Linked DNA regions of Homo sapiens. Changing the gene in region 2 together with the main gene of any one other region gives a genetic interaction. Each region holds a gene or a part of one and is shown on either strand. Other genes may lie near its edges.

Region 1 (6,191 bases), on a different chromosome or scaffold from region 2:
ATCCAACAAAGGCAAATAAAAAAGAATAAGAAAATATGAACAAAGCCCCCAAGAGGTCTGGGATTATGTTAAATTACCAAACCTAAGAATAGTCAGCGTTCCTGAGGAAGAAGAGAAATCTAAACGTTTGGAAAACATATTTGGGGGAATAATCTAAGAAAACTCTCCCAGCCTTGCTAGAGACCTAGACAATCAAATACAAGACATTCAAAGAACACCTGGGAAATTCATCACAAAAAGATCATCGCCTAGGCACACTGTCATCAGGTTATCTAAAGTTAATATGAAGGAAGGAATCTTATGAGCTGTGAGGCAGAAGCACCAGGTAACCTTATAAAGGAAAACCTATCACATTAACAGCAGATTTCTCAGCAGAAACTCTACAAGCTAGAAGGGATTGGAGCCCTATCTTCAGCCTCCTTAAACAAAACAATTATCAGCCAAGAATTTAGTATCCAGCAAAACTAAGCTTCATAAATGAAGGGATGGTACAGTCTTTTTAGGCAAACAAATGCTCAGAACACGCCACTACCAAGCCAGCACTACAAAAACTGCTAAAAAGAGCTCTAAATCTTGAAACAAATCCTGGAAACACATCAAGTAAAGCTCCCTGAGATCTTATCAAAATAATCAGCATGAAATTATGCTTGTTAAGGGAATGAAGCAAAGCACATTACCAGATTTGCTATTTTTATTTGATGTGTTTTCTTCCCCAGGTTGAATGAGCAACACTAAAAATGTAACAGCTCATTAGTTCATTGTTACCTATAAATCATTTATACACAAATATTTGAGTTTCTCCTATCTACTAGGATCTGGGCTAGGCACTGGATGTTAATGAAGTTTACAGTTCTTCAAAACTCATTGCATTTTAGGCTGGGCGCGGTGGCTCACACCTGTAATCCCAGCACTTTGGGAGGCCGAGGCAGGCGGATCACGAGGTCAAGAGATTGAGACCATCCTGGCCAACATGGTGAAACCCCGTCTCTACTAAAAATACAGAAATTAGTTGGGCGTGGTGGTGCGCACCTGTAGTCCCAGCTACTAAGGAGGCTGAGGCAGGAGAATCACTTCAACCCGGGAGGCAGAGGTTGCAGTGAGCAGAGATCGCACCATTGCATTCCAGCCTGGCAACAGAGCAAGACTCTGTCTCAAAAAAAAAAAAAAAAAAAAAACAACTCATTGTATTTTGTACCAGGAAAAAGATTCCCTTTAAGTTTTATTTGAAATGTATAAAGGTCAAATTGAGAAAACAAATTTTAAATATTATGTTATTCATTCACTAAGCAAATATTTATAGATCACCCACCATATATTAGATATTTTATGAGGCTCTAGAGATTAAAAAAAGAAAAACATTTTGATATGATTGCACTTGCCCTCAATGATGAGCTTACAGTATGGTTGGGAAGAAAGAAAAATAGTTGCAATAATTATGCAGCTATAACTGTAGGAAGACAGGGAAGGAGCATCTAAAGGGGTGGGAGGGCACTAGATATAAAGAAGGAAGCTGAGCTTGAGCTGAGACTTAAAGGACCTAGACAAGGTTATTACAAGAGGTAAACTATGAGGGGGAAAGCCAAAATAACAGACTTAATTACTTTTAAAACCCCTACAGAATGTGCATTTGGAAACTGATGAAATAAGACCTAAAAATGTAAGCAGAGACCAAACAACATGTCTCAAATTAGGCACTTTTCATTCTGATAATCAGAATCACTGAAAAAATACTAACATGTTACAGAAAAATTACTCAGATTTACATGTGGTGAACTGTCAAGGTGGGGTCAAACAGGACACAGGCAAACCAGTTGGGAAGTTATTTCAATAAACCAACTGAAAGACAGAGAGGATAGAATTAAGCCAGGGAAACACATAAAAGGATGGATTTAGGAGATCAGTATACTTGGAAGACAGAATCAATGTGGAATAGGATTTAAAGAAGGAGAAAGGAGCAGGACACTCAAATTTCTGGCTTAGGAAATGTTGAAGAGTGGAGGAGTCTATATGTATAGAGGGCATCAGGAAGAGGAATGATAATTCTGTTTTGGAAAACTTTAATTATGGGCTATCAAGTGGGGCATATGGTTTTGGATTTCCTATCAGAGGTCTGGGCTGGAAATCCAGAATTTCATGTTATCACTTCATCATAGTTAAAACCATGGATGAACATAATATTGTCTAAGTCAAATATACATAAGCCCATGGACCCTCTTCCTAAGAAAACAGACATACATACATATAAACAACATTTTGTACTCCATTTCAAAAGCTGCATGAATGCCCATTCATGCACTCCACCCCTAAAGGCCTCTTGGAAGTAGACAGTAGAGAGTTAAGAACAGAGTTCTAAGAAAGTGATCCACAAATCAGTTGTCATATGGAAAAGTGATATGACAACAGAAAAGAAAGTTTCAAATGACATGATACAGTCCACTGTACTCAGCCACTCTGCGGTCCTAGATGACTAGCACACCTAGTTTCCAAAAATGGTAGAAGCTAAATCTCAGTGAGTTGAAGGATAAACGCAAAGGGAGAAAATAGGGAAAAAACAAACAAACAAACAAAAAACCCTACAAATGGGTACATGCTATTCTTTCAAGAAAATGAGAAAGAAAAGGAGAAAAAGTAGGAAATACTGAAATAATGTGGTTTAAGAGTTTCTGAAAATAAAGGATAGAGTTGATCATGATTTTATCATAATCAGGGGAGAGCAAAGAGAGAAGGAAAAGTTGAGCAATCAGGAGAAAGACTGTGACTGATGGAGTAGGGTCTCTGAGAATGCAGGCGAGAATGACAACAAAAGCATAGGTCTAGAGAGACTTGGATAGATGAAGGAGTACGGAAGGAAGGATGAGTGGAAGTGCATATGGTTATAACATGGTTAAGCAGAGGGTGAATGAGGAGAGAAAAACATGGTAAAAGGGAGTTCCACCAAAATGACTCTGATTTTATTTGAGATATGCTAAGACTGTTCAAACAGGTGATGAGGTGGGATTTTTTCTAACACAGAGGCAAAAGTCTGAACTTACCACCCACAATAATAGAAGAAATATTTTTCAGGTAGCAATGAATGCTCAGCTCATACTGCAAACAATTTAAGGTGGCAATAATCTGGCATAGGAACAAAGGTTGGTGTGAACCAGGGTTAAGGTTTTGTAACACAGAGGCAGTGGGACAATGAAGCCTAAATGATAAGGGTTATTAAGTGCTTAACTTTAGGCCTAGATGAAAGGAAAAGATGTTCAACTAGGAGGTCTTAAAGATGAATCATAACATTCATAGTTAAAATTTCTGGTAAGATCACAGTGAATAAGGATTAAGAAAAACTGGCCTACATATCAATTTTTACCTTACTAATTTTTACTCCACATTTAATATGGTCCACTAAATGACAAATATATAAATGAAAAATTCTGTTAATAATAAATATTTAATGCCCCAGAACAAATATAATTTCTAAAGGATTGAAACCCTAAAAGCCTACTTCTGTTCGTCAGAAGTACTGGCTGTGGCTATCTGAACAAATCTTTAAATTGTTAATTAAACATACGTACAGGTAAAAAGAAAGTCTTAAAAATGTAACTGTCCTTTTTTACATTCCAAATAAGGAGAAAACTAAACTGATGGTAGCATATTTCCTTTTGCAAGATGATATTAACCAATAATCAGTGAGCTAGAATTCCAGTACACACTATTCTGAAGTACTACATTTAAAATTGTAATGTTTATTCTTCTTAAACCAAACCTGTGTTTCTAAACTCTAAAGATGGTCTGACTGCTTGATAGCAACTTTAGGAAAAGATAGTTACTGTATTTTTTCGTTATAAAAATATGAAAAGATCTCCAAAACAGCCAAACTATATTTCCTAATAAGTTTAAAGTCAGCACTTAGTTACTGGCAATTATGGATACTAGGGAATTATTAAAGGGACAAAAATAGTCAAAGTGATATACTGCAGATTAAGGGATAAAAACACTGACATGAAGGAGTAGGTTGTAAATGGAGTAAAATTAGAATTTAAGATTTCAGTACTTAAAATAGAATCTTGTACCCACAAACCACACCTTGAAAAATGAACAGTGAATAAATATTAAACAGTGAATAAGAATATTTATATTTTATTGTGCCTTTTTTAAAAATTGAGTTGTGATATTGTTAACATTAGCAAGATCAGAACTCAGAAAATAACCATCGTCGACACATATTTATAATCCTCCATTATGCGATTTCAAAAGGGGGTGATTTTTTCATGATAAATCCTAAAGATAATTTAATTTCTTACTTGTATTAAACCTTATTACCATCAATTGGTTCATACAGCAGAGTCTAGGCACATTTAACTTTCTTGAATCTACCAAACACTGTAGGCCAAAAAAAGGAAGGCAGAGACAGACAAAAACAATAATTACTAGAGATTCTGCTTACCATTTCAGGTATTGAATATCTGCTCCAGAGTGAATGGGGGATGGGCAACAAGAATCTTGCTCTTTTAGTCTGTTTCAATCACCACATGCATCTCAAAATGTGAGCATCTTGCTGCATTGCATGATTCTAGTTTTTAACACTTTTTCTCTTTTTTTAAAAAACATACAAGGTGGTGACCAAACACAGAGCAACTTTTTCACTGGGAGTTCATCTAAAGAAACTGTGATACATTCCAAGTCAGGATGAAAAACATGGCTGTGTAGGACATGCTGAGAGACAGCATGTTATGCCAACTTGATGTCCTTTTAAGGGATTCTCAAAGGTAATCTTAGCTATTCACAGTTTCCACCTAACAAGTTCACTTTAGATGCTAACTCATTCTTAAGCAAGAAGCAATTGCTCCTGAATAGTTCTCAATCAAGTTAGGAAACACATCTGAAGCATGCAGAACAGAGAAAGCATGACAAAAATAATAAAACACATAAACACTTTTCACACAATACAAAATATATAATGGTTAAAAACAACCAAATTTCTATGGGGCTCTTATTCTCTAACTTATCCTCTAACTAGGTTTCCCATTCAAAGGTGGGGGAAAAAAATCCTGGACAGGCTCATAACTATAAAGCAGATTAGTCTTTATATTCAGAATATTCCCCCCCAAAGTTGTGTTAATTTTACTTTTAGCACAGGGTAAGGAAGGCTTTTCCTTTAAATGTCCTTGGGAAAACAAATAAAAAAAAATATTTTAACACCAGATAAGGACAAGCATAGTCAGAAAGAAAATTCCAGAATATCCCACAAAGATGAAACGAGCACAAGAAAACGTGGAACAGACCCAGCACATATTAGGCAGTATGTATTATAACTCTTCCCACGAAAGTCCAGTGGAAAAGGGCCTAGCACAGATTATGTCTGAAAGACAAAATTCTCATTCCACCCTAATCCATGAGCCTCTGGGAGGCAGACTGAAGGAATTTACGCCTGCCCTCTTGTGAGAGTGGAAAAAACTCAAACCGTTTTTCCTCTGCTCTCACACGACAACCATCAACACAGAAGATGTCTGTGACAAAATGTGTATGAGTTTCTCCCCATGCACCAAGCAAACAATCACTTCTGCAGCAGACATCAGATGAGTGTTCTCCAATTCATTTCTGACACTATCTAGAGATACTGTCATATCCCACAGATTGAAGGCCCAATCCCACAAGACTGCCCACCACTTCTGATGCCAATTACAAGCTCCAGGCTTTTTTATCTGTACTTCTGACTGACCAGCTATAAATTGGGGATTACATGACCCCCCTCCTTGGGTTCGGTTAATTTGCTAGAGTGGTTCACAGAACTCAGGGAAACACGTTTACCAATTTATTATAAAGGATATTACAAAGGATACAGATGAACAGATACATAGGATAGGGTAATTTATAAGGGAAGGGAATTTCCATGCAGAACTTCCAAGTACTTCCTGGGCACACCACCTCAAGGAATCTCCACATGTTCAGCTTTCAGAAGCTTTATGAACCCTGTCATTTTGAGTTTTTATGGAGGCTTCACTACATAGGCATAATTGATTAAACCCTTTGGCCACTGGTGATCAACTTAATCTTCAGCCCCTCTCTCACCTCCCTAAGCAGTTAGGGGGTGGGGATGAAAGTCCCAACCTTCTAATAATTCCTTGACCTTTCTGGTAACCAGCCCCCATCCTGAAGCTACTAGGAGCAGCCAGCTAGCTAAGACAAAATTCTTAGTCAATTCATTA
Region 2 (6,191 bases):
CGATCTCCGCTCACTGCAAGCTCCGCCTCCCAGGTTCACACCATTCTCCTGCCTCAGCCTCCTGAGTAGCTGGGACTACAGGCACCCGCCACCACGCCCGGCTAATTTTTTGTATTTTTAGTAGACAGGGTTTCACCATGTTGGCCAGGATGGTCTCAATCTCTTGACCTCATGATCCACACGCCTCAGCCTCCCAAAGTGCTGGGATTACAGGCATGAGCCACCGCACCCAGCCCTAATTTTTTTATTTTTAGTAGAGATGGGGTTTCACCACGTTGGCCAGGCTGCTCCTGAATTCCTGACCTCAAGTGACCCACCCACCTTGGCCTCCCAAAAGTTCTGGGATTACAGAAGTGAGCCACTGTGCCTGGCTCAGTACCCATACTTTTTTTTTTTTTTTTTGTATTTTTAGTAGAGACGGGGTTTCACCCTGTTAGCCAGGATGGTCTCGATCGCCTGGCCTCGTGACCCGCCCGCCTCAGCCTCCCAAAGTGCTGCGATTACAGACGCGGGCCACCTCGCCCAGCCCAGTACCCAGAATTTTGACCATCAAGTGGCACACTGAGCTAGGGGGACCCAACAAGACCCCTCACCCCTAAGGAAAGCCACCAGATGGGGGCAACTGCCCACTTTATTAGACAATAGGTGGCCCACAGGTCTCCTCAGGGCCCACCCTCACAGTAGACACACCACACAGGACAACAGAAGGAACCTGCTACCCAGTCCTCTGTCCCTGGGATTCTGGTCCTGGGACAGGTGGGAAAGAGGAAGGTGGGGGCTGGCCTCACAGAGGCCTCATAAATACAAGGTCACTGGCCAGGGATGCAAAGGAGCGCAGCAGCAGGGACTCGGGGAGGATGACCTGTCCTAGAGTGGCCCATGTCACGCAGCCTCCTGTGTGGGAGGGGGCCTCGGCTCGGCATCCAGGCGGCACAGGGGACTGTCATACACCATCTGCAGGTTCACCTTGTGGCCCACCAGCTCCCGGATATTGTTGATGCCATATTTGATCATCGTTGGGCTTGTGGGGGAGGGAACAGAGTTTATCATGAGGTCAGCACGTGCACCCTTCTGCTCAGATTTCCATGGCTCCCATCTTCTTCAGAGGAAAAGTTCAAGTTCTCCCCATGACCCACAGGGCCCTGCGCCAACTGCTCTATCACCTCTCACCCTCCGCCTTCAGCCACACCAGCCTCCTCACTCTTCTCCTAATACAAAAAGCACATTCCCACCTCTGGGCCTTTGAACTGACTGTGACCACTACCTGGGACACCCTTCCCCAGATACTCTCATGGTTTACCTCTTTATCTACCTCTAGATTTTGCTTAGGTGGCACTTCTTCCTCCATGATGCCTTCACTGACCACGTAGTTGCCTTAGCCCTCCCTATACCACTTACTGCCCTGGTACACACTTCTGTCTTCTTTTGCTGAGTGCATTTGTTTTTTTGAAACAGAGTCTCACTCTGTAACCTAGGGTGGAGTGCAGTGGCGTAATCTCAGCTCACTGCAACCTCCGCCTCCCAGGTTCAAGTGATTCTCATACCTCAGCCTCCTGAGTACCTAGGACTAGGACTACAGACGCACGCAACAGTGCCTGGCTAATTTTTGTAGTTTTAGTAGAGACGGGAGACAGAGTCACACTCTGTTGTCTAGACTAGAATAGAGTGCAGTGGCATGATCTTGGCTCACTGCAACCTCTGCCTCCTGGGTTCAAACGATTCTCCTGCCTCAGCCTCCTAAGTAGCTGGGATTACAGGCACCTGCTACCACGCCAGGCTAATTTTTATATTTTTAGTAGAGATGAGGTTTCGCCATGTTGGCCAGGCTGGCCTCGAACTCCTGTCCTCAGGTGATGCACCTGCTTCAGCCACCCACAGTGCTTGGATTACAGGCATGTGCCACCACGCCTGGCCTGTTTTTATTCTTTGTAGAGGCGGAGACTTGCTCTATTGCCCAGGCTGATCTCAAACTCCTGGCTCAGGCGATCCTCCTGCCTTGGCCTCCCACAGCACTGGGATGACAGGCATGAGCTACCACGCCTGGCCTGATGTACTTGTTGGTCTTGCTAGTTATCATCCTTCTCGCTCCACTGGGACCCCAGATTCAGAGGGAGGGACATAAGCTGTCATGTTCACAGCACGGGGCTGAGCATTCAGTTTGTACTCACGATGAAAGTTTTGTCCATTGGATGAATGAATGGGTGGTGCTGAAACCACGCAGGCCCCTATACCTGGAGAGTTATTTGAGGCAGCTGGACACCCCGAGTTTCCACTTGGGCACTTACCGCTCCAGGGAGAGGCCCCAGGCAATGACCGACACGTTCTCGGGAAGCCCCATGGGCAGCAGCATCTCTGGACGGAAGACCCCCGAGTTTCCGACCTCCACCCACTTCTTCAGGCCTGCAGAGGCAGGACAGAAAAGACGGGCAGTGCGTGTTGAGTTTCTGGGCACTGCTGGTACAGGTTCTGGGTCTAGGTGGTGAGCTTGGGAGGTGGGGTACAGGCATGGCAATGGGGGGACCCAGGCCAAACCATAGTAGCCTGAGACCTCCCTCCCACCCCAGTACCAGGGCCTACCCTGACCTTGGTGGTAGCTGAACACCTCCATGCTGGGCTCTGTGTATGGGTTGTAGGCTGGCTTGAAGCGGAGTTGCGTGATACCTGCAGGAAGTGGGGGGCGGGCAGGAGAGCAGGGGTTTGGAGGATAATGCTGGTGATCAACACACCTGCCCGCTGCCTCACCACCATGGCCCACCCCTGCCCCCCTGCTCACCCAGCTTGGTGAAGAACTCCCGCAGAACGCCCATGAGGTGGCCCAAGGTGAGACCATGATCCGCCACCACGCCCTCGATCTGGTGGAACTCAGCCAGGTGCGTGGCGTCCAGGGTCTCATTCCGGAATACGCGGTCGATGGAGAAGTACTTGACCGGAGTGAAGGGCTTCTAGGGGTGACAACCGAGCCAGGCCCAGGTATGGGTCAGAAGGTCCCTTTGACAGCACCCTCTCCCCACTGGGGCCCCCGCCTGGGCCAACCGCACCTTCTGGGCAAGGCGGTAGAGCGCACGGGCGCTGGCTGATGTGGTGTGGGTTCGCAGTAGGTTTTTCCGGGCCTCGTCCAGCTTCCAGTTATACTTGTACCTTCAGGAGGGAAGGTGGGAAGTCCATGCAATGGCCCAGGGGTCCCCAGCCTCCTTCCCTTCCATACCAGGTAAGTCCTGCCTCACCCCTGTGAGCCGTAGCCGCCCTGAGAGTGGGTCCGCTTGACCCGCTGGACATAGTCCATTGGGAGCTGCAGGGCCTCCGCTGGATCTGGGCAGGACAGAGCAACATCAGGTCAGTCAACGAGCATTTCCCACCCCTTTTTTTTTTTCAGACAGGGTCTCACTGTTGTCCAGGCTGGAGTGCGGTGGTGCAATCTGGGCTTACTGCAACCTCTGCCTCCCAGGTTCAAGTGATTCTCGTGCCTCAGTTTTCTCATTTGTGTGTGGCTTTTTTGGGTTCTTTTTTTTTGAGACAGAGTCTTGTTCAGTTGGCCCAGCTGAAGTACAATGGCTCAATCTTGGCTCACTGCAACCTCCACCTCCCAAGTTCAAGCAATTCTCCTGATTCAGCCTCCCAAGTAGCTGGGATTACAGGTGCCTGCCACCACACCCGGGAAATTTTTGTATTTTTAGTAGAGATGGGGTTTCGCCATGTTGGTCAGGGTGGTCTCGAACTCCTGATCTCAGGTGATCCACCCACCTCGGCCTCCCAGTGTTGGGATTACAGGCATGAGCCACTGCACCTGGGCTTTATTTATGTATGTACGTATGTATGTATGTATTTTGAGATGGAGTCTTGCTCTGTTGCCCAGGCTGGAGTGCAGTGGCATGATCTTGGCTCACTGCAACCTCCTCCTCCCAGGTTCAAGCAATTCTCCTGCCTCAGCCTCCCAAGTAGCTGGGATTACAGAAGTGCACCACCACACACAGCTAATTTTTTATATTTGGTAGACGTGGGGTTTCACCATGTTGGCCAGGCTGGTCTCGAACTCCTGACTTCAAGTGATCCGCCTGCCTGGGCCTCCCAAAGTGCTGGGATCATGCCACCGCGCCCGACCTTTTTATTTTTTCTTTTTTTTTGAGACGGAGTCTCGCTCTGTCGCCCAGGCTGGAGTGCAGTGGCGCGATCTCGGCTCACTGCAACCTCTGCCTCCCAGGTTCGAGTGATTCTCCTGCCTCAGCCTCCTGAATAGATGGGACTACAGGCACACGCCACCATGCCCAGCTAATTTTTGTATTTTTAGTAGAGATGGGATTTCACCATGTTGGCCAGGATGGTCTCGATCCACCCACCGTGGCCTCCCAAAGTGCTGGAATTACAGGCGTGAGCCACCGCGCCCGGCCTATTTTTTTTTTTTAAAGGGACAAAATTTTTTTTTTTTTTAGACGGAGTCTCGCTCAGTCACCCAGGCTGGAGTGCAGTGGCATGATCTCGGCTAACTGCCAGCTCCGCCTCCAGGGTTCACACCATTCTCCTGCCTCAGCCTCCCGAGTAGCTGGGACTACAGGCGCCCGCCACTATGCCTGGCTAATTGTTTTTGTATTTTTGGTAGAGACGGGGTTTCACTGTGTTATCCAGGATGGTCTTGATCTCCTGACCTCGCGATCCGCCCGTCTCAGCCTCCCAAAGTGCTGGGATTACAGGCGTGAGCCACCGCGCCCGGCCTAAAGAGACAAAGTCTTGCTCTGTTGCTTGGCCTGCAGTGCAGTGATGCAATCATAGCTCACTGCAGCCTCAAACTCCCAGGCTCAAGCAATCCTTCACCTCAGCCTCCCGAGTAGCTGCAACTACAGGCGTGCACTACTATGCCCAGCTAATTTTATTTGTACAGATGGGTCTTTCTATGTTGCTTAGGCTGTTCTCAAACTCCTGGGCTCAAGCGATCCTCCTCCCTTGCCCTCCCAAACAGTGGGATTATACCCACTGAGGCTGGCCAAGTTTCCTTCTTTGTAAAAAGGGGTAACAGTACTGCTTCCAGTAGTTGGCAGGAAGATTAGAATAGTGGCTAGTATGTGATGAGTGCTTAGTAAGTTTTGGGTGCTATGACAATAATGACAAGAATGATGTTGCTCCTCTGGCCAGGTAAGCCGGCACCCAATGACCTCAACTGCCCTCTTGGTCAGGAAGGCCACCCCATTGTGGGAAGTCATTCCATTTCAGACAGTGCTAAGGGCAATGAAAGAAAGAAATGGGACAGAAGAATGAACACTAGGGGAGAAGGGCTTCTGTAGAACTCGGGGTGAGCCCGGGAGTGTTAGGCTGGCCTGTCTCTGGTGACACGTGAGCAGAGATTTGAGGCTGCAGCCTGCCTTGAAGATCTGGGAGAAAACAGCTCTTGGCTAAAGACGGAACATAAGCAAAGGCCCTGAGGTGTGCACGGCCTGGAATGCCCAAAGAAGACATGGGGGCAGGCAGGGTGTGGGGGCTCATGCCTGTAATCCCAGCACTTTGGGAGGCTGAGGCAAAACTGTTTGAGATCAGGAGTTTGAGACCAGCCTGGGCAACATAGTGAGAACAAAACAAAACAAAAATTCATTAATTTTGGGCTAGGCGTGGTGCTCACGCCTGTAATCCTAGCACTTTGGGAGGCTGAGGCGGGAGTATCACTTGAGGTCAGGAGTTCCAGACCAGCCTGGCCAACATGGCAAACCCCATCTCTATTAAAAACACAAAAATTAGCCGAGCGTGGTGGCGGGTGCCTGTAATCCCAGCTACTCAGGAGGCTGAGGCAGGAGAATCGCTTGAACCCAGGAGGTGGAAATTGCAGTGAGCTGAGATCGTGCCACTGCACTCTAGCTTGGGCGACAGAATGAGACTGTCTCAAAAAAAAAAAAAAAAAAAAAAAAAAGCCAGGTGCGGTGGCTCACGCCTGTAATCCCAGCACTTTGGGAGGCCGAGGCAGACTGGAGTTTGAGACCACCCTGGCCAACATGGCAAAACTCCATCTCTACTAAAAATACAAAAATTAGCTGGGCATGGTGGTATGCACCTGTAATCCCAGCTACTCGGGAGGCTGAGGCAGGAGAATCGCTTGAACCTGGGAGGCAAAGTTTGCAGCGAGCCAAGATCATGCCACTGCACACTCCAGCTTGGGCGACAGAGTGAGACCCTGTCTCAAAAAAAAAAAAAAAAAAAAAAAAGACTGCAGG
Region 3 (5,937 bases), on a different chromosome or scaffold from region 2:
AGGTGCGGTGGCTCACGCCTGTAATCCCAGCACTTTGGAAGGCCAAGGTGGGCGGATTACGAGGTCAGGAGATCGAGACCATCCTGGCTAACACAGTGAAACCCCGTCTCTACTAAAAAAAATACAAAAAATTAGCCAGGCGTGGTAGTGGGTGCCCGTAGTCCCAGCTACTTGGGAGTCTGAGGCAGGAGAATGGCGTGAACCCGGGAGGCGGAGCTTGCAGTGACCCGAGATCACGCCACGCACTCCAGCCTGGGTGACAGAGTGAGACTCCGTCTAAAAAATAAATAAATAAAAGTTAGACACAGTTTAGAGGTACTTGTGCTGACCTGAATTCACTGAAATGCTTTTCCTACATCCCAGTGACTGTGAAGTGCTGACCACACTCACCCCAGACACTGGCCGTATCCTGTCCAAGCTACATACTGTCCAACCCAAGGGCAAGATCACCTTCTGCACGGGCATCCGCGTGGCCCATGTGAGTCCTACTGGGTTCCCTGGACCTTTCCTCCCTGCTCTGAGGTCCTGCCTCCATCATACTCATTTCTCCCCTGGAATCCTGAGCTAGGACCAGAGCAAGAGAAAGCTAACTTGGAGTAGAAAGGATATGGGGGATGAATCCCAGGGTAGTTGAGGGTTGTGAAGGGAAAAATCCCTAGAATTGAGAATTAAGGCTGGGCGTGGTAGTTCATGCCTGTAATCCCATCACTTTGGGAGGCCAGGGGAGGAGGATTGCTGAAGGCTAGCAGTTCAAGACCAGCCTGGGCACATAGGGAGACCCTGTTTCTCTAAAAAAAAAAAAAAAAAGGCCGGGCGCGGTGGCTCACACCTGTAATCCCAGCACTTTGGGAGGCTAACACGGGCAGATCACCTGACGTCACGAGTTCGAGACCAATCTGGCCAACGTGGTGAAACCCCATCTCTACTGAAAATATAAAAATTAGCCAGTACTAGGAAGGCTGAGGCAGGATAATCGCTGGAACCCGGGAGGTGGAGGTTGCAGTGAACTGAGATCACGCCACTGCACTCCAGACTGGGCGACAGAGCGAGACTCCATCTCAAAAAAAAAAAAAGAGAGAAAGAGAATTAACCTCCCTTCTTTATGCACAGAGAGTCATAGCAAAAAGGGAGGAGGTGGGGGTGTTAAATCTTGTGTGAACGTGATGGTAGATGGTGTACTTCAGGTACAAAGAAACTGTAAGAAAAAGGGAACCGAGTGACAGAGGAAAGAGCTGAGTGATTCCTCTGGTTAACTCTGAGAACTTCCTCTCCCTTTACAAGCTGGCTCTGAAGCACCGACAAGGCAAGAATCACAAGATGCGCATCATTGCCTTTGTGGGAAGCCCAGTGGAGGACAATGAGAAGGATGTGAGTCCAAGTGGCAGCTGGGGAATGTGGGGAGCCCATGTTTGGGACTGAGGTCTTCCAGCCCTCAGGAGAACCTGGCAGAGGCATCAGGCTCATCACTTTGGGGAAAGGTGAATGTGGAGAATTCAGTGATTCTGTTGGAGGACCTTGGGGAGGTCAATAGATTTCTGTATGCTTTTATGCGGCGGGTCCTTTCCCCCCCTCGAGTATGGAACAGATTTCTTGATTTTTCTCCCCTTCTTCCCAGCTGGTGAAACTGGCTAAACGCCTCAAGAAGGAGAAAGTAAATGTTGACATTATCAATTTTGGGGAAGAGGTGAGTAGGGACTGATTGGAGGGCATTGACTTAATTTGGTCATAAACAGAATGGTCCTTAACCCTGAGGAGTGCGGGTACTGTGGCAGAGTAGTGCAGAAATGGGAAAGAACAGGGAGCAAGGCCTGAAGAAGGGCATCATGTGTTCTTTCCTCCCCAGGAGGTGAACACAGAAAAGCTGACAGCCTTTGTAAACACGTTGAATGGCAAAGATGGAACCGGTTCTCATCTGGTGACAGTGCCTCCTGGGCCCAGTTTGGCTGATGCTCTCATCAGTTCTCCGATTTTGGCTGGTGAAGGTGGTGCCATGCTGGGTCTTGGTGCCAGTGACTTTGAATTTGGAGTAGATCCCAGTGCTGATCCTGAGCTGGCCTTGGTGAGCAAATGTTGACCCCAGGTAGAGTCCAAAGGTCCCTCTTTGTTCTCTTCTGGCACACACATCACAGAGCTTCTATCAGGCTGGATAGTCCTAGACACTACCAATCACTCATTTTCCAAGACCTCCTTTTGCCGCCTCTTCCCTATAATGCTGTCTGATCTCTAGGGGCACCAGTGTCAGATGCTTTCTTGTTCACTTCTGATGAAAACCGAGGCTTCTCCCAAGTCCTTACTTTTTAATCCCGTACCACTGCTTATCCCTCCAGCTTCTTCTCTGTGTGATAAACCAGAAGCTGCCCCTTTATGTTCCTTTCCCACACCCCAACTGACTTTCCCAGCTCCCTGTAGGAGTGAGGGCAGGGGAGCCCTGATTATGCCCTGCCCTTCACCAGGCCCTTCGTGTATCTATGGAAGAGCAGCGGCAGCGGCAGGAGGAGGAGGCCCGGCGGGCAGCTGCAGCTTCTGCTGCTGAGGCCGGGATTGCTACGACTGGGACTGAAGGTGAAAGAGGTGGAATCCGAAGTCCTGGGACTGCGGGATGCTAAACATTGAAAGCTGGGTGTAGGCACTGCAGGGAGAGTGTGGAGGTCTGACAGGGTAGGAATATGTGGGAGGGCTGGGCTAGGAATGGCCTTGGAGGCTGGCCTGTGTGGATATGGCACCAATTCTACCCTGCTCCTCTTTTCCTTTTCCCAGACTCAGACGATGCCCTGCTGAAGATGACCATCAGCCAGCAAGAGTTTGGCCGCACTGGGCTTCCTGACCTAAGCAGTATGACTGAGGAAGAGCAGATTGCTTATGCCATGCAGATGTCCCTGCAGGGAGCAGGTGAGCCAGAGCCTGGGTGGTGCCTAGGCAGAGGTTGGGGTGAGGAAGTGTAACTGAACAGACTGACCTCTCTTCCTCAGAGTTTGGCCAGGCGGAATCAGCAGACATTGATGCCAGCTCAGCTATGGACACATCTGAGCCAGCCAAGGTGAGACCCAACCCTGCCCCCATCAGGTTTAAAGTCCTTGAATTTAGATCCTCATCCCTCTGGGGCTGGGAGTATTTCTACCATAGCTAAGTCCTTTGAGGAGCAGAGGGAAACACATGGATTTGCATTTCTTACATGTAAACCTTGCTAAGGTAGCAATGCTAATGGTCAGAGTTGGAGAAATGTCCTCTTGTTCTGTAATTTTCCTTTCTTGCTGGTGGGAGCAGCCTGGGCAGTTCTCTAGGATGTCTTCCCAGGAGGGAAAAAAGCGGGTCTGGGAAAAAGAAAAAGGAGAACTGGGTGTCTTGAGAGCAGGAAACCTCAATGTGATGGCATCTGTTTTTCTCCTCAGAGCTCAATTAACAGAGTTCTCAGCAGGCCCCTCTATTTGGTTAGTAATAACTGCATTCATGCTGTATAAAGGATTTTGCTGACTTGTCCTTTCCTTACGTCGACCAGAGGTGCCCAGATCCCCACACAGTCAGAAGGCAGGGGGCCTCTGGCAGCGGCATGCTCCTGTCCTTAACACCTGCTTACTTCCTGCCGCTCCATACCCTCCCTTGAGCTCACACTGCCTGTTTGCAGGAGGAGGATGATTACGACGTGATGCAGGACCCCGAGTTCCTTCAGAGTGTCCTAGAGAACCTCCCAGGTGTGGATCCCAACAATGAAGCCATTCGAAATGCTATGGGCTCCCTGGCCTCCCAGGCCACCAAGGACGGCAAGAAGGACAAGAAGGAGGAAGACAAGAAGTGAGACTGGAGGGAAAGGGTAGCTGAGTCTGCTTAGGGGACTGCATGGGAAGCACGGAATATAGGGTTAGATGTGTGTTATCTGTAACCATTACAGCCTAAATAAAGCTTGGCAACTTTTTTTCCTTTTTTGCTTCAAATATTGATGGTTTTGAGTGTGAGAGAGGGGAGGAGTCCCTGGCCTGAAGGAGAACCTTCCTTGTTGAGTTCTCTATGTCTCTGTTTCCACCTGTCTGGGCCTCCTAACGTGCTGGGATTACAGGCCCAGGAGCCAGGTTTCCATTTCTAATGAACGAAGACCTTATTTAAACCACCTTCTTGCCAATAACTTTTACTCTGCACTCACACAGCTGAACCCCAAGCATGGAATGATACTCAACCTTTTCAGTTTTTTCATGTGGACTTCTGAGGTTCAGCAAGTTTAGGTTATTTGGCCAAGGATATTTAGCTAATGAAGAGGCAGAACCAGGATCAAAATCCAAACTTGTCTCAGACCTGTCTCGCCAGGAGTTGAATCACCACCAAACAGTAGTTTCCCATTGGTCAGCTGCCTTCAGTGACTCTGCTCAGCCCTGCAAGTCAGTTCCTTGTAGCAACTACTATACCTTCCTCTACTCCCCGATCACTCTCAACAGAAGCCTGACATCTTTACAGAGAGTCAAGGCCGTGAGGCAGGAAGTTCTGGCTCCCTCCCTCCTGCCAGCACCTCCCTGCATCAGTTATGCTGTCTCCTGAGTCTCTGCTGTCCTAAACACCCTGCTGGCGTTTTCCTCTCAGTGTACATGCATAAAATCCACTCTACAAGTAACCTTACCTTGAGACTTTATATTATACGGTTTAAATATTATTTTACAAGGAACATCTATTCCCTTTATAATTTTTTTTAAAGTTTTTTTTTTTTTCAGCCAGGTGCGGTGGCTCACACCTGTAATCCCAGCACTTTGGGAGGCCGAGGTGGGCAGATCACAAGGTCAGGAGTTTGAGACCAGCCTGACCAATATGGTGAAACCCCGTCTCTACTAAAAATAGAAAAAAAATTAGCCGGGTGTGGTGGCACACGCCTGTAATTCCAGCTACTCAGGAGGCTGAGGCAGGAGAATTGCTTGAACCCAGGAGGCGGAGGTTGCAGTGAGCTGAGATCATGCCACTGCATTCCAGCCTGGGCGACAGAGGGAGACTCTCAAAAAATAAAAAATTAAAAAATATATATATATATTTTTATTTATTTTAAACAAAGTCTGTGCTCTGTCACCCAGGCTGGGGTGCAGTGGTGTGATCATAGCTCACTGTAGCCTCAACCTCCTAGCCTAAAGGATCCTCCTGCCTCAGCCTCCTGCATAGCTGGGACTAAGGCACACACTACCACGCCCAGCTAATTTTTTTTTTTTTTTTTTGAGATGGAGTCTGTCGCACAGGCTGGAGTGCAGTGGCACTGTCTTGGCTCACTGCAACCTCTGCCCCCCAGGCTCAAGCAGTTCTCATGCCTCAGCCTCGCAAGTAGCTGGGACTATAGGTATGTACCACCATGCCTGGCTAATTTTTAATTTTTTTTATAGATATGCGGTCTATGTTTCCCAGGCTGGTCTTGAACTCCTGGGCTCAAGTGATCCTCCCACCTCGGCCTCCCAAAGTGCTGGGATTATAGGTGTGAGCCACCGTGCCTGGCCTATATAGTTTTAAAAGTTAGATTTGTAATAAAAATTGGTAGGGTCCTGCCCTACCCCTCTGCACTCTTGAGGTCTACTCCCAGAAGTAATCAATTTAACTTCTTTAGCTAGCTCTTCCTGTGCTTACTTCCTTATTCCCAAAGAATGAACTTATATGGCTATTTCTTAATTTTTCCATTTTAGCCATTATCTATACTGTTTACTATAGAATATTATAATTTAGTTTTTTTTTTGTTTTCGAGGCAGAGTTTCGCTCTTGTTGCCCAGGCTAGAGTGCAATGGCACGATCTCTGCTCACTGCAACCTCCGCCTCCTGGGTTCAAGCGATTCTCCTGCCTTAGCCTCCCAAGTAGCTGGGATTACAGGCATGTGCCACCACACCCGTCTAATTTTTTTATTTTTGGTAGAGACGGTTTCATCATCTTGGCCAGGCTGGTCTTGAACTCCTGACCTCGTGATCTACCTGCCTCGGCCTCCTGAA
Region 4 (6,191 bases), on a different chromosome or scaffold from region 2:
ATGAGTACAGAAGTAATAATTAACAACTACTGTATTACCTGTGTCCCAGGCACTGCTTCATGCTTTGTGTATTACGTAATCCTCAAAACAGTTCTACTAGTATTTTCCCCATTTTAACAGATGAGGAAGCTGAGACAGTGGTTAGGTAAGTTGCCAACAGTCATATAACTTAAAAATAGCAGAGCTGGGATTTGAACTCAGGCAGCCAGACTCCAGAAGCCATGCTCTAGAGATGACTGTCAAACAACTGCTGTGCTAAAACTAGTCCTGGTAGTCGAACTTCATAAGACTTCCAGGAGGTTCTACAGATCAAGTATCTAGATCTTTTATGAGATATAAATGACATCAACTAAATGATCTTGTTGATGTCCTAAGAGAAGTTCTGAGAAATTCATGATGTAGAAAATGATTTTACTAATAACTATACTCCCTCTTAAGCAGATATTAATGGTACAGAATACATTTACATCATAGTTAGTATACATGATTACTTAGTATTCCTTAATTTGATTCAATGAATATTTCAACTATGCTTCTCTTAGAAGTTGTCTTTAGGCTCTCAACAGGTTGTCAGATAATTATTTTAAAATCCAATTAAGGTGGTAGAAAACCTGTCAAAAAGTTAACAAAATTAAAAATTGTATCTAATGAGCTTTCCAGCTTTCTAGCTGTCATTTTCTAGTAGATTCATCAGGAATTCATTTACTAGGTATCACATCTGAAAGTTTAGGGTGGACCTAGATTTAAATAATGAATAATCACTTATCCACTCTGAAAGGGGGAAGTTAAAACGTTAATAGATACATCTAGTTCTGTTTTCTTTACAATTACATATTGCATATTTTGTCCAGAGTAACTAAATGGAGACAAGAGTCTTACCACTTTACATGTATAAATAAGAACATCATTTGTACACATACTTTATAACCTAGGACATCAGTGTACAATACTTGGGCTGTTTCAAAACAATTTGAATTAAGTAAGAATGAGTGTTCCAGTTCATTACATCCCTATACTGCTTATCATTTATTGCCTTCATTTGTTTACATGACCTGCCAGACTTCTGAAGGCATTTGAATTTGTAATTAATGATCTAGATTAGGGTTCTTAAACATTTTCTGTAGGGCCAGATAGTAAATATTTTAGGCTTTGCAGGGTAACAAGCAAAATCGTGGATATTATGTAGGTACTTACAGAACAAGCTAAAACAAATTGCCACACTTTTTTTTTTCTTTCAAACTGTATCCAGCTTTATTAAAGATACTTTCCATAAACAATCATGGTATTTCAGGCAGGACATGGGCAGACAGTCATTAACAGTATACAACTTTCAAACTCTCTTCTTCAATGGACTACCAAAAATCAGCCGCTATAAAACCCAATGAAGTCCTCATCTGATGCTCTGAACAGGGAAAGTTTAGAGGGTTAACATTTCACATTTAGCATGTTGTTTAACAACTTTTCACAAGCCAACCCTGACTTTCAGGAAGTGAAATGAAAATGGCAGAATTTATCCGAAGATCCATAATCTAGAAATGGAACCACTGCTCTTTTGACAGGTGCCATCTCAGTGGCATCACTGGAAAGTCCAGATTGCCAGACACACTGGTAACCAATGACCGGGGGTCAGGTCCCAACAGATGTCTGGGCTTAAGGGGATTAAGTCTATGCTGAAAGATGGAAAGGGAAAAGAAGACATAAAAACGAATTTGTTTTTCCATACCACAAGGCTTTTGTGCCAAGGTGGCCATGTGTGTCAAAGTCAGGAAATCCCTCCTCCTGGGAGCCAAGAGGAAGTCTCTCAAAACTAGAAGGGAAAGATGTTTTCCCCGTATCAATCCAGCTTCAGAGATATTCTATTAGTGACACATACCCCTTCCCCCAAAAACAACAATGAAGTGTTCTGTGTGCTAACAACATAGCTTAAAAAAAGTAAAACAAAATTCTGCATTTTTATAAAACTTGATAAAGAATATTTCAAACTGTACAGTCACCAGAAGTACAGTTATAAAAAATGCACACACTTCACTTGGGATCTCCAGCACCTTCCCGCTCCTTGCCAGCATCAGCTTTTCTCTTTTTCCCTTTGGGTACCTTCTCTCCCTTCTTTGCAGGGGCCTTTTTAGGCTTGGGCTCTGGCTTTGGAGGAGCAGGTTTAGCAGACAACCTCGCAGATCTTCTCTGTGATTCATCCTTCACCTTGGCTTTATCTCCTTTAGCATCCCCTTCAGTCTTTCTCTTGGGCATGGCGGCGGCGGCGGCGGCGGGATGTGGGCACCGGGTGTGGGACGCAGCAGCGCGCGGGCTTTGGTCGGTCCAGGGGTCGTTCTTGCCTCTTCTCCTTCACACTGCTCCCACGCTTTTTTAATTGACAAAATTCAAAATATAGCCCAATTTTTTGTAATGCCTTTTTTGGTGAGAATAACATTGCCTCTAATCAGGGTTCTAAGTAAGTGTTCCCTGTGATCAAAATCAGTTGTAAATGATTGCCTATTAATGGTTATCATTAACCATCATTAACCATTAATACTAATGGTAATAAGATTTTACACATTTCATCTTTAAAAATGTCTTCTCATACAGATAGGTATTGCCAAATACTGCTATCAATCCAGGAGCATATGAAATTAACTGAGCATATTCATCACTTGGAAAGCATTTGTAAAATTCTTTTACATTTCTTCCCTTGAAATTTGCCTTTTAGCATGTCATTATTTTAATCACTTCTTACTGAAAATTAGGTTGAATCACCTCAATTGCAGTTAAATAGATTTTGAAACAGGGAAATTTCCTTTGCACTTGCACCTAGGTCCCTAAAAATGCTGAACTCAGAAAATATACTCACTAAAATTTGTGGGAATGGAAATCTTGTTTCTTTCTCTTTGATAGTATGACAAATGTGTAAGGATATTGTCATCAAATATTGTGATTCAAATATCGATTGTCAAAATGACTGTACCATATCAAAGTTGTTTTGCCTTGTGTTTTAGGCCATTCTTGCATTGCTATAAAGAAATACTTGATACTGGGTAATTTATAAGAAAAGAGGTATAATTGGCTCACAGTTCTCCAGGCTATAGGAAGCATAGCACTGGCATCTGCTTCTGGGGAAGCCTCAGGAAGCTTTTACTCATGGTAGAAGGCAAAATAGGAGAAGGCACTTCACATGGCGAAGGCAGGAGCAAGAGAGTGTGGGGGGCGAGTGCCACATACTTTGAAACAACAAGATCTCATAACTCATTATCTTAAGGACACCACCAAGGGGATAGTGCTAAACCATTCACGAGGGCCACATATAAGGGCTCACACCTGTAACCTTCACACATTGGGAAGCCGAGATGGGAAGATCTCAAGCCTAGGAGTTCAAGGTTACATTGAGGTGTAACTGTGTCTCTACACTCCAGCCTGGGCAACAGAGCAAGACCCTGTCTCTAAGTAAAAATAAAAATAGAGTCAAAGAACCATCCAGAATCATTTCCTTTTTAAAGTGACTATTTATGTCGCTTTCAATGTCCTTAACTCTTTAAGCAACTGTTCTTGCCAAAGGCCAGTAATCTTAAGTTTATTTTCTCTGGATATATTCAGCTGCTGCATCCAAACATAATTAATTCACACCATCAATAAATGGCTTTGCTTGGCTAACAAATGATTGACTTAGAGACTTACTGTTGTTGCAGCCTCATTTTCATTTTGTGAAGAAATTCTGCTTTGTTATTTCCATTTTAAATTTTCTAATTTTTCTAACAGTTGCTTGCCTGTGAGTTGGGAATACTGTGATGAGTGGTTTGTCTGGTAATGTCAATGGTTATTCTTTTAGCTTAGCTATATAGATGCTTTGTCGTCTAATTCAACATCAAAATAATTCACACCCTACTGTACTTTAAAAATAACAACAAAGTCCACTTTTCTTGTTTTGCTATAATAGATATGCTCTGGTAATAAAAAATAAAATGTGGGTTCATGTGATATACATGGCACTCAAAATGCTGTCGTTACAACCACATCAGTGATTTGTGATGTGTCAAACAGCAGTGTGAAGTGATGACAGTCACATTCAGTGTGTGTTGCAACCACTCAACTCTGCTATTGTTCAAGAAAGCAGCTGCAGTCCTCACTTCAGCAGCACATATACTAAAAAACTGGAATGGTACAGAGAAGATCAGAATGGTCCCTGCGCAAGGATGACATGCAAATTCGTGAAGCGTTCCATATTAAAAACAAAAAACAGCTGCAGATGATATGTAAACAAATGAGCATGGTATGTTCCAATCAAACTTTATGAACTCTGAAACTCTTAATTTCATACAATTCTAATTTTTAAAACTGATACATAATAGATGTCATAAAATTTTCACGTCACAAAATGTTCTTTTGATTATTTTTCAACCAATGGAAAACGTAAGAACATTATTAGGCCACAGGCCATATGAAAACAGGTGGTGGGACAGATTTGGCCTGCAGGATGTAGTTTGCCTGCCCCGTTCTAAATAATTTCATTTTTTATTACTTTTATGGTGATAGTTAATTGGCAGTAAAGGAGTAGTTACGTAAAGGACAACTACAAAGTGGTGTTAATACCTTCCTAGTTAGTACTCAATCACCCTACTTTCAAAAATTATTTTCCCTGAGAGAAAATATTTATTCATATTTATCCAATAAAAATTAGATATATTTTGTTATAAAATAATTGTATGTTATAATTTAGATAACAGGGAATGTATTTGGTAGCCTTAGTTCAGTTAAAGTTTAATTGGTAATCCTCAATTTGTAAAATAAGGCAAAGTACAAGGGTTCAATAGTAAAAACCAAACCCTAAAATTTTATTAAATAATACAAATTCTATTTCACTACATGTAAGTCTGGTAGGGAGATGGAGAAAACATTTCCAATTAAGTGTTTGAAACAATTTGTGTTTTTTCGTCTGAAAAGGCTTCAGCCGTCCTCTGCCTTTTAAGAGGTGGATCTTCATGATTCTCTGTAATAAATCCAGAAAACCTATTTTAGGTAAGATATTAACAGTTGAAAATACTCTTAAAAAAACAAACAATATAGGCATTTTTAATCTAGTCAACTTAAACATGAAATAACATTCTTGCAGATTTACTATTTTAATGAAATAGCCTTCTATTAGACTGAACTAACACAGTAGCTTTCTATTAGACTGAACTAATACTGCATTAAAATTTGTAAAACTGGGAGGAATTAGTTACAATTGAATGGCAAGGTTTACATTTAATTTCCCAGAAACTGCTCACCTGGATTTCTGGTCTGGTTCTTGTAGAGGACAGAGGCAGGAATCTGAAACGTGATGCACAGCATTTCCTTGTTTGGGGCCACATTTCTTACCAGGTGAACTGAACTGCATGCCTCCAGAGAAATGCCTAACACAGCTCCAGCCCTTTGCCGAACATCCTCAGCAGGGTTAGCATCTTTGGAAAAGCTATAACAATGCACTATGGGAAGGAACTCACTGCTGCATGGCTGCCCATCTAAAAGCCACTTGAAAGCACTAAGAAACTCTATAGCTTTTGCTGGCAAGTTCATGACAACGTGCACAGAGGGTTTTCTTTCTTTTGACAGACCCAGCAGCTGCATTAACTCTTCTTTGACTGGTCCTTGGAGGAAGTCTTTCCCATCCAAGTTGAAGACTTTCACCTTTTGGTCCACTTTATTTAATTTACAGTTGTACAACAGCCATTTATGAGATTCAGGATTGAGATCATTGGCAAATACAGTGCAGTTTTTCTTTGCTACTGGAATGGCAAAGGGCCCAACCCCAGCAAAAACATCAAATAGGACATCCCCAGGTTTGAGAAGTTCTGTGATACGGCTGTGTTCTGTAGACAGACGAGGATTCCAATAGACTTTTGAAAAATCAAATTCATAGGTGTAGTTGTTTTCTCGAACCTGAAAAAAGGTGTTATGCTTTTTGGTTAATTTCCTTGGTCCTAAATCCTAACCATTGATATTGGATAGGTTGTGTATACACACAGGCAAACACATACACATTTAAGTTTACTACTGTAAGAGCCAAACAACAGTGCATTTAAAGGCATTTTAATTAGACTCCTGGTGTTTATGCTATTCCTAAGGCCAGTTAATATACTGCATTAGACTTATTCGTGAGAAAAAGTCATCTCTTTAAAGCCAAATGGCTCTCCATCTCAATCCTATAGGGCCATGGCCATAAA
Region 5 (6,413 bases), on a different chromosome or scaffold from region 2:
AGGTACGGTATATAAACAAAATAGCCATATCTGATTTTTGGCAACATGAAAATGCCAATTTCCTTTCAAACCAATTCCCGGACTACAGCTACAAATGTGGTCAACAACGTCATCCTGGAGTAAAATTCAGCTCCTGACACACACTTCTATGGCAATTATAACATAGTTAACACTTGGCCTGTACCTATATGAACACTGATCCATTGGGGGCCACTGAATAAAAATTTCTTCAATCTCATTTGCTATTTTAGTTGAGGATTCTAATTTACAGAAGAGCTGGGCCTTTCCTTCTCCCATTCCTTTTATAACTTCCTATCCAGTTTCCTGCAGTTTGTTTTTCCTCCTATTTGAATTGTTCTTATAATCTTTAAACGTTTCTGTTTCCATTCACTTTATGCGTGCATGCTTCTCTATGACTTATCAAACGTAGCACTGGGTGTAAAGTGGTATTTTTCCAAGGTCAAAAAAAGTATACGAATTCATTTATTAGGATTAGGCTTAAACTGCTTTCATTGAGATTATTCAAAGGATTTTTGCCCTCATTAAAATTATATCAAGTAAATAAAAATATGACATCCATAAGTGTGTTTGTTCACCAATAAGGATTTAGGTTTATCCAACTTTTTGCTAATACATATTCAAGCATTGTCTTAAGTTAAAAATATGATTATCATTCCCAGTAGATGTGTAACAGAACACAATAGGGCTGTCAGTTTTTTAAGGATATTCAAAATTATGGAAAACAGGTTCAATTACAAAAAGCCAGCTAACAGCACAAAGGTCACCAAGGTATGATACAATTTTGAGTGGGACCTATGCAGTGGTACTTAGCCATTAAAAATGCCAACAAAAGGAATGGAGGATGAGTCACAGTAAGTATTCCCTTAACTGTGAAACTTAAATATGCATGTACACTGATTACATTCTATTTCAGGTGCTTGTATAACTGTAAAGATATTGTATTACGAAGAAACACAGCTGGAAGTCTGGGCTTCTGCATTGTAGGAGGTTATGAAGAATACAATGGAAACAAACCTTTTTTCATCAAATCCATTGTTGAAGGAACACCAGCATACAATGATGGAAGAATTAGGTAATAATAATGACTAATCAAAAATACTTGTATTAAATGTTGTTTCATAAATGCCAAAGCTTGGCCCCATTTGAGATAAGGCATGTATTTATTATACTTTGTGGGGATTAAAAGTATGTACGTAGCATTCAACTTCTGAGAAATCCAAAATAATTACACATATTCTTGGTCCCATACTACAACTCCCCATACTTTTAGCATTCCTTCTAACACAAGCTGAATGGATAGTGAGTTTGGAGAATGTAAATAAGAGGCAAGAAATATCTCAATTAGAAGTTAACATAATTAAAATGGTCAGATGTAGCAAAATCTAGCACCACTAAGATAAACTTGCATTAACTTCAGCAACGAATTAAAATACTAATCATATCTTGTTTTGTTTTTTTTTTTAGATGTGGTGATATTCTTCTTGCTGTCAATGGTAGAAGTACATCAGGAATGATACATGCTTGCTTGGCAAGACTGCTGAAAGAACTTAAAGGAAGAATTACTCTAACTATTGTTTCTTGGCCTGGCACTTTTTTATAGAATCAATGATGGGTCAGAGGAAAACAGAAAAATCACAAATAGGCTAAGAAGTTGAAACACTATATTTATCTTGTCAGTTTTTATATTTAAAGAAAGAATACATTGTAAAAATGTCAGGAAAAGTATGATCATCTAATGAAAGCCAGTTACACCTCAGAAAATATGATTCCAAAAAAATTAAAACTACTAGTTTTTTTTCAGTGTGGAGGATTTCTCATTACTCTACAACATTGTTTATATTTTTTCTATTCAATAAAAAGCCCTAAAACAACTAAAATGATTTGTATACCCCACTGAATTCAAGCTGATTTAAATTTAAAATTTGGTATATGCTGAAGTCTGCCAAGGGTACATTATGGCCATTTTTAATTTACAGCTAAAATATTTTTTAAAATGCATTGCTGAGAAACGTTGCTTTCATCAAACAAGAATAAATATTTTTCAGAAGTTATAGTTGTCTTTTAGTATGTGATACTAATTAAGATTACTTTTGTATTATCACTATTTAAAAGATCCTAGTAATTTATTCTTTCAAATACCATGTTATTTGTTACCATCACCGATGAATACCTCCTAGGCTTATCCCTAAAAATGCTCGCTCAGAGAATTAATTATAAACTTGTTTTGTTTTTAGTAAGAAATGGCTAAAGCTCTTTTTTTCCACAATCGTTAGTAACTGTATAAAAACTCATGCTGCTCCACCAGTGGGCCTTGGAAAATGCATCAAGAAGGCCAAACCAGCTTGACCCTGGCTCACAGACATGGTCATGAGGCGATTTAAATTTGTGCCACAATGAAGAGTGTGTGTACACATGCCTCCTAGAAACTACACTATGGGTAATTAATTAATTTATTTCATAGAGGCCACCCAGATGCCTTATAGGTTTTATTAATTTGGATATGAAAGTGTACCCCATTTGGTTTCACCAGGAACCCAAATTTAGAATATTGAAAAGCCATCAAAAAGTTGTGATATCAAAAATGTATGAGTCTCTTAATATACTAAGCAAGAGTGTCACAGCAGTAATGATAAAGACTAGTTTTAATCTCAAGCCTTAGAGGGGCCCTTTGTTGCCTTTTGTGATGCAGCCTCTTAAGAGAGTGGTGTTTGATTAACAAAAAAACTGTGGCCCAAGTGGAACCCTTGACCTTTTCTCAGATAATCTGTGTATGTACACAGCTAACACAGCTCTTTAGATTCCCTGTTAAGTGACTCATTCACATTCCTTTCTTGGATATAAAGTCATTGCTGTCTTTTTATTTTTGAAATAGTACAAGACAAAGATTTTTAACTTAACATGAAAAATTCACTCTTTTATTTTGGAAAAAAAGTTAACTTTTCATACTAACAAACAGAACAAGATTTAAGGTAAATTTCTTAAACATTATCCAGAAAAATAACAAGATTTATAGTATCTACTTCTGGTACTAATATACACAAAAGGCCAAAACCATGCCTATTCTGCAGGTGTAGCTTCGGTGCTCTCCTGTTCAGGGGCAGGCTCACTGCCCGCTTCTTTTCCTTCTTTGCTTCTTTTAGATTTTTTGTGTTTGTGTCTCCTGTGACTATCTCCTTCTTCACTTTCATGGCGACGTCTACTATTACTGGAAAAAAAAAAAAAAAAAAAAGGTGTGTTCTGTTTAAATACACAATCAGTGACAAAAATCCAATCACTCTAAGGAAATTCTCAATATAACACTGGGTTTAAAATAATCTAATGCATTTTCTCATAAATATAATGTGAGGAATAATCAGTTTTATGTGACTTTTATGCAGGGATTGTATTTATTTTATAGGGCCATCTTCACTGATATTATCTCAGATTCCCAGTGCCTATACACAGCTTCTGAAATGCATATTATAATATACAGTAACAAATTAGAAACAGGCATTAACTCAAAACCGGAAATACTGTATAGGGTTGATTTTTGGCAAACAATAGGTATTTTGTTTAATGCTTTTTTAAAAAAATTTGAGACAAGGCCCTGAATTTTTCTTTAATGAAACCAAGCAAGACTGGTTCATAGGCCAAAATTTCCCCTCTTCCAATGCGACAATGTAGTAAGTCAAAATCTCTCACATACTATTGGTTCACTATTTTATTAAAGAGCAAACCTTCGAGAAGACTTATGTCTGGTTTCCTCTTTCTCCCTGTGTCGTCTTTCTCTATGTCGTTCTTCTTTTTCTCGACTTGCTCTGTGACGCTCATAACCTCTTTCTGCATATTCCCTGTATCTGTATCGTTCTTCATCGCTGAAATTGAAATAGAAATGTTTTCTTGACAACTGGACCATTAATTCTGAATGGATTCAAACTGTAAAAGAGATGTGATCTGCAGTCCAAATCCAAAATCCTCACATTAGCATCTTTTATAACATTAGTGAGGAAGAAATATTCGTTGAATTGAGAGGAAAATAATGCTTGTTCTCAAAATAGCACTAGAGCTAAGAATATAAATATATAATAATTACACATGTTAAATGACCAATTTTGTTCTGTGCTTTCATAGCTGTTAAAAAGATTTAATATAACAATGCTTTGGTTTTTTCATTTCTTGAAAAAGTGAGATCTGCAACTGATTTAAATTGTTATCAGCTTTTAAAATTTTTGCTCCTTTTAGAATTAAAATAGTATTTGTATATCTCAGATTTCTAATCAATATTCTTGGAAAGTCTTGGACATACGTTTAACATTATAAAAATACACGACTCACAATTACTACAAAACAGAAAGCAAATAAGTTTTTAAACTTTAGGTTTATTACTAAATATTCATCAAATAGAGAAGTATAAAAATAAAGAACAGAGACATCAAAGCAACTTCTACAGCATCCATACAAAATGCAGATTGGACATACCTGCATTCTGACATCCTAATTACATCTGTGTGGGCAGGGGGGCTACATGGCTAATAATTTCAACTGCATAAATAGAAGCTGCATCTCCATTTTCTGATTTTGGATTGAATTACACAGACTGGTGAAACTGAGACTAATGGCTAGAGTTAGAGGGTGGTCTTTCTTTACCTCCCTAGACTTCTTTTCCTTTCATGTCCTTTAACTGACATTCTCTTTCCATCTTTCTCTTTATCCTTCAAGTCTCTTATTTCTTCCTTTTTCTTTTTTTATGTTTAGCATAGAAGTCAACACTTTCTACAACTTAACATCAGTAAATTCACTTAGAATAAAATAATCTTTTAGAAGAATATGCTGAAGAGCTTTGATTTCTAGAAGTGTTTAATATGAATTATGAAAGTAGTAATTTGTATGAAACATCAAGATGGTAAGGAATCTCAGGGTTTAACATAGTCAGGTGACAACTATAAGCCATGTTTTAAAAGACATGTCAGCCTGTGTTCTAGCAAAAGTAATGATTCATTAATGCTATGCTTAATGCCCAATTGTACTGCTGACCAAGTTATTATCTGTGATACATTAAAATTTTAGAATCTTATTTAAAAAAACAGAAAATGTATTAATATACACATTTGCACATATTTGTATATGTATTTCCACTATTTTTTTCTACCCATAAATATGTACTTTTGTATTTGGAGTGTGGAGGCATGTCACCTGAAAAGTAACATGCCATGCCAGTCAGTAGAGAGGAGCAGAAAGAGTACAAGTGGAGTACACACAGGATCACATCCTGATTTTGCCACTTACTAAATGAGTGACCGAGGCTATTACCTATTACCTCTCTAAACCTCGGTTTTCTCACCTGTAAAATTGCCAACAGTCTTTTTCAAGACTTCTTACAGAACTGACAACATTTATAAAGTGCTTGGTATGAGAGTAGGCACTCAATAAATGACAGTCCTTGGTGAATTTAATGCTTAATTTTTTCAGAAGCAGAACTTTTTAGTATCATGTCTTCAAGTAGAATAAACTAGCACCATAGGAAATAAATATAGTTAACTTCTCTCAAAAAATGAGGCTTTTCAATGACTCCAACTAGATTTACATAAAAATAGTTAAAGTCAATTATCTCATAATGTGTCATTTGTTAACTCTTTTTCCTCTTACCCTAAAACCAGCTCTTGTTGAACCTGGAGCCTTTAGATTCTGAAAGCAGCCCTGTGATGGGAACCTTATAACAGATGGTAGAAGATTGGGTCCTACACACAAAATATAAAGACCCTCCTCCTTCCATCCCCTTTTCTGATAAGTGGCTGAACCACAAAGGTTTCTCTGGACCTGGAAATTATTAGAGTTCATTTCAAACATCCTAGAATGACCAGCCTTCTTTCTGGCCCATAATTAAGCTCCCTAAAAAACAGAAGTTGAAACTGGCCTGTAATTTTCAAAACAATGGCCCTGTAATTTGTAAAGCAACATATACTACATGCCATACTGCTAAAATACCAGCCTTCAGAAACCTTTACTTATACTTCACTTGGATTTTCCAGAGTGTAATTTTTTCCTGGGATAATTCAGAACAACTCAAAATTCCTCCACTTTTTGCCTCTGTGGCCTTAAACATTTTAGTCAAATTTAGGTAAACATTGACTCCTAATGCCCTACAGTTCAGCAACCTGAATATCAAATGTGGTTTAAACATTAACACTTTTTAAGTTTCAATAAAAACTCAGTAATATCTGTGCATGTATTTGAAGCAGAAGAATTAGAGGATTTAGCCAAATCTTCTATAAACAATGTGTTATTTATGCAAAGAAAATTTATGAGTCCTGCTTGGCAAAGCAATTTATTTTACTCTTATTTCCTATCAAGTTTTGCATTAAGTTCCTTACTTATAAACATGTACATTCTAGAGACAGCAATGCTATCTCACA

Evidence for each region.
Region 1: changes in FARSA (region 2) and ASCC3 together harm fitness less than expected from each alone (positive genetic interaction), as found in Homo sapiens cells (one large-scale study listed by BioGRID).
Region 3: changes in FARSA (region 2) and PSMD4 together harm fitness less than expected from each alone (positive genetic interaction), as found in Homo sapiens cells (one large-scale study listed by BioGRID).
Region 4: changes in FARSA (region 2) and TRMT5 together harm fitness more than expected from each alone (negative genetic interaction), as found in Homo sapiens cells (one large-scale study listed by BioGRID).
Region 5: changes in FARSA (region 2) and FIP1L1 together harm fitness more than expected from each alone (negative genetic interaction), as found in Homo sapiens cells (one large-scale study listed by BioGRID).

Annotation. Positions count from the first base shown.
Region 1 is NC_000006.12:100,873,312-100,879,502, forward strand, and holds part of ASCC3 (activating signal cointegrator 1 complex subunit 3), read right to left. Parts: intron 1-6,191. UniProt on the Homo sapiens protein: ATPase involved both in DNA repair and rescue of stalled ribosomes. 3'-5' DNA helicase involved in repair of alkylated DNA: promotes DNA unwinding to generate single-stranded substrate needed for ALKBH3, enabling ALKBH3 to process alkylated N3-methylcytosine (3mC) within double-stranded regions.
Region 2 is NC_000019.10:12,921,866-12,928,056, forward strand, and holds the end of FARSA (phenylalanine--tRNA ligase alpha subunit), read right to left. Parts: intron 3,310-6,191; coding exon 3,225-3,309; intron 3,139-3,224; coding exon 3,039-3,138; intron 2,943-3,038; coding exon 2,774-2,942; intron 2,662-2,773; coding exon 2,584-2,661; intron 2,401-2,583; coding exon 2,286-2,400; intron 1,022-2,285; coding exon 883-1,021; 3' UTR 614-882; downstream 1-613.
Region 3 is NC_000001.11:151,263,551-151,269,487, forward strand, and holds the end of PSMD4 (26S proteasome non-ATPase regulatory subunit 4), read left to right. Parts: intron 1-363; coding exon 364-478; intron 479-1,281; coding exon 1,282-1,368; intron 1,369-1,615; coding exon 1,616-1,684; intron 1,685-1,843; coding exon 1,844-2,059; intron 2,060-2,453; coding exon 2,454-2,562; coding exon of another isoform or gene 2,563-2,571; intron 2,572-2,757; coding exon 2,758-2,889; intron 2,890-2,969; coding exon 2,970-3,037; intron 3,038-3,622; coding exon 3,623-3,793; 3' UTR 3,794-3,929; downstream 3,930-5,937. UniProt on the Homo sapiens protein: Component of the 26S proteasome, a multiprotein complex involved in the ATP-dependent degradation of ubiquitinated proteins.
Region 4 is NC_000014.9:60,970,220-60,976,410, forward strand, and holds the end of TRMT5 (tRNA (guanine(37)-N(1))-methyltransferase), read right to left. Parts: intron 5,908-6,191; coding exon 5,256-5,907; intron 4,976-5,255; coding exon 4,890-4,975; 3' UTR 1,222-4,889; downstream 1-1,221. UniProt on the Homo sapiens protein: Involved in mitochondrial tRNA methylation. Specifically methylates the N1 position of guanosine-37 in various tRNAs. Methylation is not dependent on the nature of the nucleoside 5' of the target nucleoside.
Region 5 is NC_000004.12:53,456,115-53,462,527, reverse strand, and holds the end of FIP1L1 (pre-mRNA 3'-end-processing factor FIP1), read right to left. Parts: intron 3,876-6,413; coding exon 3,738-3,875; intron 3,228-3,737; exon of another isoform or gene 3,227-3,227; coding exon 3,079-3,226; coding exon of another isoform or gene 3,000-3,078; 3' UTR 1,666-2,999; downstream 1-1,665. Other genes in the region: LNX1 (E3 ubiquitin-protein ligase LNX), read left to right, coding at 935-1,093, 1,486-1,621.